Linked DNA regions of Homo sapiens. Changing the gene in region 1 together with any one later gene gives a genetic interaction. Each region holds a gene or a part of one and is shown in the gene's direction. Other genes may lie near its edges.

The links. Genes that interact genetically often act in the same process or in processes that back each other up.
Region 2: changes in SOX7 (region 1) and FBXW7 are lethal when combined (synthetic lethality), as found in Homo sapiens cells (one study listed by BioGRID).

The regions. Positions count from the first base shown.
Region 1 is NC_000008.11:10,723,268-10,727,511, reverse strand, and holds the end of SOX7 (transcription factor SOX-7), read left to right. Parts: intron 1-845; coding exon 846-1,774; 3' UTR 1,775-3,744; downstream 3,745-4,244. UniProt on the Homo sapiens protein: Binds to and activates the CDH5 promoter, hence plays a role in the transcriptional regulation of genes expressed in the hemogenic endothelium and blocks further differentiation into blood precursors.
Region 2 is NC_000004.12:152,533,093-152,540,675, reverse strand, and holds the start of FBXW7 (F-box/WD repeat-containing protein 7), read left to right. Parts: upstream 1-4,583; 5' UTR 4,584-5,549; intron 5,550-5,642; 5' UTR 5,643-5,735; intron 5,736-7,583. UniProt on the Homo sapiens protein: Substrate recognition component of a SCF (SKP1-CUL1-F-box protein) E3 ubiquitin-protein ligase complex which mediates the ubiquitination and subsequent proteasomal degradation of target proteins.

The DNA.
Region 1 (4,244 bases):
GAGAGTGTCACAATATCTTTATTTTATACTGAAGAAAATAGAGACTCTGGAAAGTGCAGGGAATGGCTTCTGCATGGAGATCTGTGGCTAAGCAGGTGCCCTGGCACCGTCAAGGGTCCCCAAAAGATGGCTGGCTGGAAGTGACGGTTTGCATGTATATGTGTGTGCATGCATGTGTCTGGGTGTGCGTATATGTGTTGCAAGCAGATGCTAGCATTCTGGCCTCAGTCATCCAGCAGGGTTCTATTCGACCTTCAGAGGTAAGGAATAGGTATTTGTTAACCTAAGTGAGAATCTCTGATTTACTGACATCTGTGAAAGTATTGACTGAGCCTGGGTTCCCTCCCAGAAAGGGCTGTGAGATTTATGCCATAGGTAAATATGATAGTATCTCTTTAGCCTGCACTAATCAATGAAGGCAGAGATTTTCATGAGAATACACAAATGTTTAGAATGGACCCTGGAAGGGTAAAAAGAGCCCCAATCAATATCGTGATCATTAGATATTTTCTTCCCGTAGCTGACATATGGTCAGGTGGGCTTTTCACTGGGGACCCCGCATTGTAGTGTGGGCACGCTCTGGCGGCTTTTATATGAGAGGTGATGCTTTCTGTGTGCACCGTGCACGATCTGGCTTTCTGGATGCAAGCAGAGGGGTTGATTTCGCTTCACTGTGCCTGCAGGATCTGGGCTGGGAAGAGGGTGCAAGAGATGCCCGTGTCCTCTGTGGCTGGGAGGGGGAAGGGAGGTGTGTGTGCATGTGCACGTGTGTGTGCACGCGTGTGCATGTGCGATGCCTGCGGGGCACAGCACTGAGCATGGCCTCCTCTGCCTTGTGTGAGCAGGAAAGTCGTGGAAGGCGCTGACGCTGTCCCAGAAGAGGCCGTACGTGGACGAGGCGGAGCGGCTGCGCCTGCAGCACATGCAGGACTACCCCAACTACAAGTACCGGCCGCGCAGGAAGAAGCAGGCCAAGCGGCTGTGCAAGCGCGTGGACCCGGGCTTCCTTCTGAGCTCCCTCTCCCGGGACCAGAACGCCCTGCCGGAGAAGAGAAGCGGCAGCCGGGGGGCGCTGGGGGAGAAGGAGGACAGGGGTGAGTACTCCCCCGGCACTGCCCTGCCCAGCCTCCGGGGCTGCTACCACGAGGGGCCGGCTGGTGGTGGCGGCGGCGGCACCCCGAGCAGTGTGGACACGTACCCGTACGGGCTGCCCACACCTCCTGAAATGTCTCCCCTGGACGTGCTGGAGCCGGAGCAGACCTTCTTCTCCTCCCCCTGCCAGGAGGAGCATGGCCATCCCCGCCGCATCCCCCACCTGCCAGGGCACCCGTACTCACCGGAGTACGCCCCAAGCCCTCTCCACTGTAGCCACCCCCTGGGCTCCCTGGCCCTTGGCCAGTCCCCCGGCGTCTCCATGATGTCCCCTGTACCCGGCTGTCCCCCATCTCCTGCCTATTACTCCCCGGCCACCTACCACCCACTCCACTCCAACCTCCAAGCCCACCTGGGCCAGCTTTCCCCGCCTCCTGAGCACCCTGGCTTCGACGCCCTGGATCAACTGAGCCAGGTGGAACTCCTGGGGGACATGGATCGCAATGAATTCGACCAGTATTTGAACACTCCTGGCCACCCAGACTCCGCCACAGGGGCCATGGCCCTCAGTGGGCATGTTCCGGTCTCCCAGGTGACACCAACGGGTCCCACAGAGACCAGCCTCATCTCCGTCCTGGCTGATGCCACGGCCACGTACTACAACAGCTACAGTGTGTCATAGAGCTGGAGGCGCCCCGTCCGGTCAGCCCTCGCGCCCTCTCCTTCTTGTGCCTTGAGTGGCAGAGGAGCCGTCCAGCCACACCAGCTTTCCTCCCACCGCTCAGGGCAGGGAGGTCTGAACTGCGGCCCCAGAGCCTTTGGCCTAAGCTGGACTCTCCTTATCCGAGTGCCGCCTCTATCCCCTTCCCCACGTTCCAGCCCCTGCAGCCCACATTTTAAGTATATTCCTTCAAGTGAGTTTTCCTCCAGCCCCTGAGAGTTGCTGTCTCCCAGTGGAATGTTCACTGACGTCTTTTCTTGGTAGCCATCATCGAAACTAATGGGGGGACAGACTTGATAGCCAAGGTCCCTTCTGGTCCAGTTTTCTGATTTAGGGTTCTCTCAAGATTAATAAAGGAAGATGGGGAAATTTGACTCATTAATGAGCTCGCTAACCTACGATCTGGTGATAATTTTGTGTGCACAGCCCAAGGACCACGAGGCTTTCTGCACTTTCTGCACCCCCTTCCAAAGTGACCACAAAATTTCAAAGGGACTCATACAATTTGAGAAAAAACAGTCAACCTGATTTGAGAAATTAACCAGTATGGCTAACTATATCACAGAAAATGGGATTGAGTTAAAACTATTTTATTTTAAATATACATTTTAAAGCAGTTCTTTTTTTTTGTTAATTTGTTTATTATACACACACTTCAAGAGAATATGCACAGTCTAGGCCGGGCACGGTGGCTCACGCCTGTAATCCCAGCACTTTGGGAGGCCGAGGCATGTGGATCACCTGAGGTCAGGAGTTTGAGACCAGCCTAGACAACATGGTGAAACCTTGTCTCTATGAAAAATACAAAATTTGCTGGGAGTGGTGGTGCATGCCTGTAATCCCAGCTACTTGGAAGGCTGAGGCAGGAGAATGTCTTGAACCTAGGAGGTGGAGGTTGCAGTGAGCTGAGATTGCACCATTGCACTCCAGCCTGTGCAACAAGAGTGAAACTCCATTTCAAGAAAAAAAAAAAAAAAAGAATATGCACAGTCTGAATGTATACCAGGAGTGTGAGAGACACATGCCCACTTCATGCAACTCCTAAACTCAAAGTCTAAATCAGATATTTTTATTAACAATGACAACTTGTTGCCAACTCCCTGTTTCTAATGACCAAAGACCCAGGGTACCTAAAAGGACTTTGCAACCAAGCAAAGTCACTGTCTTCAAATCTGGATACACACTTTCCCCTCTGTAGATTCAAAAGGTGCTTCCTTCCCGGCTGTCTCCAGCTTCCTTACTCTCTTTTCTGGGATTTCTTTTTCTCTTCTTTCTGCTCTTCCTCCACTGCTGAACTGGTCCCTAACTGAAACAGCCCCTGACTTATCCCAAGCATGCTTCCTTTAGCTGCTGTGAGAATTTGTCTTCCTCACCAGCCAGGTCCTCAGGCAAAGTCCTCAGCCAGTGCTTTAGAGCAACTTCCCGCAAATCAGAAACTCACTGTGATTCCAAAAATGTTTCTGAGCCCTGGACCCCTGCCCCCAAAATATTTTCATCTTTCCCCCAAACCTCCTTTAAAGGAGCATGCATAACAGTGTGCTGAAAGACAGTTGTTGGTTTTTTGATTTTAGCATATTATTTCCTGTATGAAATATGTTTTATATAATCTCCTATTATTTTTATCTTATGTTTTGTATTGTTGATAAATCCTTTTTGTCCTTCTAAGATGTCCTATTGTAAAATCACTTATAAGGTATGATTACTCTTTATGCTATTACTTTATATGCCATTTGGTAATAAATAGTAAATTGTTGATGATATGATTGACTGATGCGCAGTCCAGAGCATGTATGAATAATCTCATAAAACAGTATCACAGACATTAAGCTAAACTGTTTCGTTTTTTTGAAAGAACAACTCATACTTTGGAACAGTTGTCAATATTAATTTGTTGCAAATATTTAATTTAAATAAACATTTTTGTACCATGACTGTTCTATCTTTTGAAATATAGTTTTGCAAAAAGAAAAGGTTTCCAAGCAAGACATAAATGTTACATCGGGTGCTACTTGTGGTATTGATCAACATGTTTTCTACATCGACTTTTTTATTTTAAAAAGTTGTTATCTGGTAGGGATGGTTTATTTTATTTTATGAGTTATGCTAAAGAGATAAATCCAAATTTTACGCATTGGAATCTGCTGTTTTTATTGACAATGAAAGAAAATGTCAACTCATGACCTACATGTAGAACAATTTTCTCCTTGTGACGACTTTACACTCGTAAAGTGGAATGAGGTGACTATGAGGCTGTCTGAAGAAGGAAAGTAAGTTTTGTCTACTCGTTTGCTTACTTAAAACTGTCACAGCTATTTTTTTTTTTTTTTTGTATTTTTAGTAGAGACGGGGTTTCGCCATGTTGGCCAGCCTGGTCTCGAACTCCTGACCTCAGGTAATCCACCCGCCTCAGCCTCCCAAAGTGCTGGGATTA
Region 2 (7,583 bases), on another chromosome or scaffold:
CTGGGTGCCATGAAAAGTGGTAGGAGGCAGACAGGCTCCAGTGTGGAAAGGAGCGGGTTCCCAGTGAAGTCCCACCTTTAGGCTGGGGAAGGCCTGAAGCCTGGGGATTGGACTGCCCATCCTGCACACTAGAGGGGGAACTTATGGTGCTTTTTCCTAGGCCTGCCCAAGGACCAATCAGCATGCACTTCCTCCCCTGAGGCCCGGGGCTCAGTCAGAACTGAGCAGGCGATGGATGACCAGCTGCAGAGAGGAGCTACCTTCTTTGCCGCTAGCTGAATACTTGTTAGGATGACCAGGTGCAGAGAGTAGCTATCCTCCCTGCTGAGAACTGAACACTTGTTGGGACAACCTTCCTGCATAGAGGAGCTCTCCTCTCTGCTGAGAGCTGAAAACTCATCAGGACAACCTGCCTAGCAGAAAGGAGCTGCCCTCCCTGCTAGCAGCTGAACACTCACTGGGACACCCTGGCTGCAGAAAGGAGCTATCCACTGTGGGTCTCCTCTCAGCTGTTCCATTACTCAATAACATCTTGCTCACCCTCCACTTGTCTGTGTACCTCATTCTTCCTGGTCACGGGACAAGAACTTGGGACCTGCCAGATGGCGAGGCTAAACGAGATATAACACAAATGGGGCTGAGACATCCCCATTGCTTGCCACGTTGCGGGTGAAGAGGAGGGAAGGGCTGTGGCCTTTTGGGGAGCCCAGACCTGGGAGCTCCCCAAGCCAACACTGTGACTCCCTCTTTGGGTCCCTGCAGTTCCTGGCGTCTCCAAGCTTCCGGGTGCCAATGTGTTCCCTGGTGCCAGCTGTGGAAGCTGCTTGCAGTATGCCTGGTCCAGCCACAGCCTTGCAGAGAGCTGGTGCATCTGGAGCTGCCCGCCCCACTGCAGCAGCTGGTGTGTCTGACTGCGCAGTAGCCAGACCTCACGCTCGCTCACACATGCCTTGCCACTCCACGCCGTACTTGCCCTTGGCAGGTGTGGGATCCAGGCCGGTAGCATAAGCTGAGCACAGCCTGCCAGGCCAAGTAGGTGGAATGAGCCCAGTGGGCCTGAGCAAGACTTGTGCAAAGGCGCCACAGGCTACAGAGGTTTCTGGCCAGAAAAGCGACACCCTAAACATCCCATAACATTACTTTACCTGTTCAAATGTGGACTATGAAAGGATATTGAAAAGTTGGGCATCTCAGAGACTTAGACATTGAAAAGATACTAACGCGCCACAAAAATGTAAATCCAAATAGCTAGTTGTATACAAGAAGGTCCTCAACAGCATCAGTAATCAGAGAAATGACAGTTAAAACCACAATGATATATTACCATACACCCACCAGACTGGCAAAACCAAAAAGACCAATAATGTCAAGTGTTGTGAAGGTGTGGAGCAATGGGACTCATATATACCTAGTGTGACTGTGTAACCCTCTAGAAAAGAACTTGGCATTATTTATTCAAGTTTATGATACATATTACACTCCCAGGTATATGTTATACAGAAACTGACGTAGATGTGATGGAATACATATATGAAGAATGTTCACATTAGCATTTATAACAATCCTAAACTGGAAACAACCCAGATGTCCATCAGCAATAGAATGGCTAAACATATTGTCACATATTGTTATAATGGGACACTGTAATATGCAGCAATGAAAATGCACAAATTACAGCTATAGGAACAACCTGAACAACATATGAATTAAAAACAATGTTGAGCAAAAGCAGCAAGAACAACAGATTACATATTATATTGTTCCAGTTACATAAAGTTCAAAAGAAAGAGTGAGACTAAACAATATATTGTTTAGGGATGCATGCTTGCGACAAAGCGACAAAGAAAAGCAGGGAAATGATTATCACAAATGTTAGAATAATGACTACACTTAGGAGGGAGGGAAAGAGTTGTGTTCGGGAAGGTCATGGCAGGGAGGGGAACTTCTGAGTTGCTGGAAATATTCCATTTCTTGACCTGGTTGATTGGTTACATGGTGGTTTCCTTTATAATCACTTATACTATATAATTGCTTTATGTATTTAAACTATATTTCACAATAAAAATGTTAAAATTAATATAGATAGTATTTCTGGAAAGCAAAATTTTGCCAGATAATTTAGCTTACACAATCTTTGACAGTAAAAGCCACTGATATGGAATAACGAAACACTGATTAGTTTCTTGTAAGAGCTCACTTTCAAGTGTAGAGGTCAAAAACCTTATAAGAGTCTCCGTTTTTCTATATTTTAACACAGTATTTAGATCCTTATCTTAAATTGATGAACCAGGGAAGTAACTATTAGCTAAAACTTCAGATTTTTTGGAATTTTTAATTAACTAGCTGTTTTCTCCTCTGGATTAATAAGCAATACAAGGAACTAAAGAGATGCAGACCAAGTTGGAAATGTATGAACTTCCTTCTCTCCAGTCTCCAGTTCCAGCTGTTTCCTCCTGTTATCAAGCTGGGTGCTGAGGTGGGTATCTAGCCCAGTAAGCTTAGTGTGCTGTTATTAAATACTTTCTAAGTAAGTGGCTCAGGCTCTCCTGAGTGCCCTTCTGTTCCTCAGCACTGAGGTTGTAAGGTGGAGCCACTGACAATGAAAACAGAAGATCACGCTGCTGAAAAACCCTATGTGGTACACACTTAACTGGAGGTGTTCTCTGCTGGGCTGCAGAACTCTGATGTTTGCACTCTTTTCCTTCAAAGCCTACAAAGGTTAAACTCTCTGAGGTGTTTAGCTTCACAAAATCCCCTAAATCTGTGTGTTTTACTCCTTTAATTTCCACCATTCCCCTGTTGTAAGATAGGAAGAGGGGGAAAAACAAAAAATATTTATTTTGTAGCCATGTGAGACCATCACTTGTTGGTCTGATTACCTGTGAGTCTTATTTGGAAGGCTGTAGCAGGGGATTGGTCACGTAAAGACAGAAAAATCCAGGGTAATTTAAGCAGGATATTTAACCTGGCTCTTGGAACTTCAGGTCAAGGGCAGTAGGGTCAGGTGCTAGTCTGTGAGTCTCTCCTTGGTTTTGCCACATCCTCCTTTGCCCCTCTCACCACCTTTCCCGCAGCATTTTAATGAACACGAGCCCTTGGATTTACCCAGTTAAAAGTTTCCTTAGTTTACTGTTTGCAGATGGTAGTGGCAGTAGTGGGAGAAACCCAGAGCTTCCCACATTTGTCTATAATACACTTGCTCCTACCTTACCCCCTCCTCCAGGTGGAAAGACTTGTAAAATCCATTACTACTGCTTCCCAAGGAGGTAGAGTGTACTAGGGTCCAGGGACAGAATTGTGGAATCTGCTTTCATCATTGCTGCTGCTTTAATCTTTTTCTCATACTATTCACTGAAGACAGATTTCTGAGGATTCTGGTCCTTTTATCTTAAATTTGTTTTCCTAGAGAACTACACTTTAAACTTCATGAGTTTCTACTTAACTTTCCTTTCCAGGATAACATCTGTAGGAAAAGCTGCATAATAGTAATAACACTTATTTTAGAAAGAAAATAACCTTTGAGTCAGACCTGAAACAGGCCAACATTTCTTGATGACAACGTACACTGATGAACCAAGACCAGAAGCTCTCGAAAGCTCCAAACCGTAAGAAAGAACCATTCGTAAAAGTGAGGGACTATTAAATTCTTCCCCTGACAGTCAAAAATCCTTCAGCAATCTCCCAGAGGATGGCTCCCTTCCAATCCTCCCTTCCCGCCGCCCTAACAATCTGCGCGAGGATGGGTCCCTTCCCTTGCTCGGCATTTCGTCTCCTTTTCCACTAAAGACTCAGGTTGTGACTCTGTACTCAAGCCGCACCCCTGTTTCCTTTCATGGCTAGGGGGAGGGGAGGAATGTATTACAACTCATTTTTACAATGCACTGCAGTTTACAAAGCGCTTGCACTTCCACCATATCCTCTGAGCTTCACGAGTGCCACGTGAGAGAGGCATTCATTCATTCATTCATTCATCAAACATTTGCTCGGCCCGACCACACGTTATCCAACGCTGGGTCTCACCCCACGCCACGGGAAGGGTGGGGCGCTCTCTCCCTGGAGCAGGTGCAGATCAGGCTGTAGGGTAACTCCTCGATCAGTCCGGCTTTTCGAGGGTCTGTTTGGGGCCAAATGCCTCACCTTCGGGTGGTGCGCGCAGCTGCCTGAAGACGCGGCCTGGGCCTCCTCCTTCCTCCCAAAGGAGCAGTCCCCACCTGCCCCGAAGGAAACCGCTACAGACCAAGCTCTCCAGGCCGCCCTCGGGTCAGGGGTAAGATCGGGCGGCAGCTTAGGCTCGACTCGGCTCCTCCCCTTCCTCTCTTCAGTTCTGACGCGGCCGTAGAGGCGGCAGCGGCGGTGGCGGCTGCGAGTCCCGCGGCCCGAGGCGCACCCACCCGCTCGCCGATCCCCACTTCCTCTTCCCTTGGAGCGTCATCAGAGCGCGCCAGAGGCGCCCAGGGCGGGGTGGCTGGAAGGGGGAAAAAGGCCAGCGGAGGAAGCCTCAGAGCGGAAAGAAGAGGGAGGGGGAAGAGAGCGGTTGCTAGGTGACTTGCGTCATCGGCAGGCGCCGCTCTCCTCCCGCCCCTCTCTCTGGAGTGAGGCGAGAGCCCCGCACAGAGCGAGGGAGACAGCGAGCTGAGCTCCGGGCGCTGCCGCTGCCGCTGCCGCCGCCGCCGCCGCTGAGACTGAGAGCGAAGGAGCATCCGAGAGATCCAGTCCCCCTGCACTGGCCGCCGCCGAGACCTTCGCTCTCACCTGGGCCAGCGGGAGCCGCGGCCGCACTCCTTTCCCCCCCTCACCTTCCCGGCCGGCAGCGGCGGCTGCACACGCCGGAGCCGGAGCCAGAGCCGGAGCCCGAGCCTGAGCCGGAGCCGGCGGCTTGGGGGGCAGGGAGGCGGCTACCACGGGCCGGGAGTGGGTAGCTGCTCCGCGGTGAGAGAACGCTGAGGAGGCGCCAGAGCTTCTGCCTCGTCCCGTGGGGCGTGGGGCGAGACCCCCAAGGTGTAGGGAGGGGGGTCCCAGCCGCAGCGACACATGCGGGAGCCGGGAGCGGGGGCGGCGCCGAGCGGAGCCGGCCGGGTCCCTCGCCTTGCCGCCGACTCGGCCACCCGCCCGGGGCCGTAGCATCTTGCCCCGGAGTGTATGAACCGGGGCCCCAACCAAGCTCGGCAACCACCCCCCGGCCGGGGGGGCGGGGACCCCGATGTGAAGCGGCGGCTGGGGCGGCGGAGAGAACAGGACCGACGCCGCCGTCCTTTCCTCACCTTCCCCCTCCCCTCAGCCCCCTCCGGGGGTCTTCTCCCTTGGCCAGTCGCCGGCCCCCCGGCTCCTTGGCTGGACTCCGGGAGGAGTTCCTAGAGCCCCCCTCCCCCGCCCCAGTCCCGAGGGCGGCGGGGCCGGGGGGGACCCGGGGGGCCGGCCGCAGCCTCCACCCAGAGGAAACTTTACAAAAACAAAATCCGGAGTCTCCCAAACCTGACTGTCCCGGGAGAAGTGGCCCTGGACGGGCAGAAGCCGCAGCCTGAAAAGACCCAGGAAGAGGAAAAGAGGAGGTAAGCGGGGCCGCCGCCTCCCCTCCCCTGGCAGCGCGGAAGAGACCCGGGTTGCCGCCTGGTTTAGCGACACGAGCACCGCTTCTTCCTCAGTACCGCGCCGGAGCCTTCCGCAGCTGCCGCTTCAGTCCGAAGGAGGAAGGGAACCAACCCACTTTCTCGGCGCCGCGGCTCTTTTCTAAAAGTGTGAGTGGCCCCGGGAGAGGGAATTGAGGGGGAGAAAGTGGGAGGATGCCGGCGCTTCCTCCTGGAGTTTTGCTGATGTTCTCCAGTAGTGTTGGGAGTCTATCAATGAGGGAGTCTAGCTTTATTCACGGAGGGGGGAAGGTGTTAGGGAGGCCTGTATTTTGTAACTTTTTAGCTCTTTGTACGAGTAATGCAAGTATGCAGGTTTCTGTCGGAGGAGTCTTTTCTCCAAAGTGAATACTCGCACCTTTCTGGCCAGCAGTTGGCAAAGGGAAATTGAGGAAGCCAGAGCATATGTGCGCACAGAGGCCATCTGTATCTGTAACCTTTTCCTGGTACTGTGGGTGTGTGCGGTGTACTTTTTGTTTCGGGGGTACTCTCATATAGGTTCCCGAATGAGAACTACTTAACCTGTGGACCCCTGAAAGTAAAATTCCTTTTTTAAAAAACAACAACAAACCTGTTTTGAGAGAGGTTCATTTCAGTACCTATTGGTACAGGAGTTAACCTTCTCAGTTACTGGGTCCAATTTCATGTGTGTCAGGAGGACACTGTAACAGATGTCAGTTACTCAGGAACTTGAGTTGTTAGGAATCACAACTTACTTGGGGAAGAGCATTTATCACATTAATCATTTTATAAAAGTTGTGATTTTTTCCCTTTCACCCCCCCCTTTTTTTTTTTAGAGTAACAAATTACAGCACTTTTTTATTTGGTTTGAGGCTTTGCTTTTTTGAATTATCTTTATTTCTGTATCAATTTAGGATACATCTTTGATATTTAAGTCAGGAATGATTTTTTCCTTCCATTATTTTAAAGCTGAAGTTTATAAAACCTTTGACTTGTATTTTAGGTATCTTGTCAGAGTACCAAATTAAAGGTTTATGAAAGTAATTAATATTTCATATACAGACCTTAAGGGTTAAACATAGAGCAGAATTTTATGTAAGAAGACATAGACAGTAGTATACTGAGAATTGTGGTCCGTCTAGACAACTGTGGGCTCGTTCTGTCTGAAGCCACTGCTGAGAGATACTTTGTGGGAATGAATGTAAGCCTGGGGTTATCTCTCTTTTCGAAGTTCTCCATTCAGGATCTTGATTAGATTAATTTAAAACTTTCTCAAACTTAACAATGTTTGGTCCTTTTTTTTAAAGTAATGAGTTCTGCAAGTTTATTAGCCTGTGTATTATGTGACAGTTCATTTACATATTCCATACCTGTGTCCCTAAACTTTCAGGACACAGTCAGAGTTTGTGTTTCAAGAATTATCAGGACAAGCCTCAGTTCATCTTTTCTTAATTTTATGGACTTTCATTATTTCTACCATCAGTTTCTCCAACTGTTGTCTTAGAATAATGTCTTTCATTTGACCACTTTTCCCTCCTCTGGAACTTCTCCCACTGAATTGTTTTTCTTTAGTTGCCTTGTTATGCTTTGGTAAGGAACTTTAAATTCTGTCCTTTAAATGTGTACTGACATGAAAATACTGAATAGTGGATGTAATGTTAGAATCAGAGTCACGTATTCTGTTTTTCACTAAGATATTGCAAAGAGAAATGTAGTCATTTTCTAAAATACTGTACCCAAAATACAGTAGAAGCTGTATTTTGGGAAGGAGGGGAGGACAAACTAAGAAACAAACTATAGTTTGAATGTAGGTTGCACTCTGTCAAAGTTGCTTACTAACTTTAGGACCTACTTTTATTGCTTATGGATTGGTTAAAAATTACGGTATTTTTTTTTTTTTTGAGACAGAGTCTTGCTCTGTCACCCAGGCTGGAGTGCAATGGAGCGATCTTGGCTCACTGCAACCTCCGCCTCCCAGGTTCAAGCGATTCTCATGCC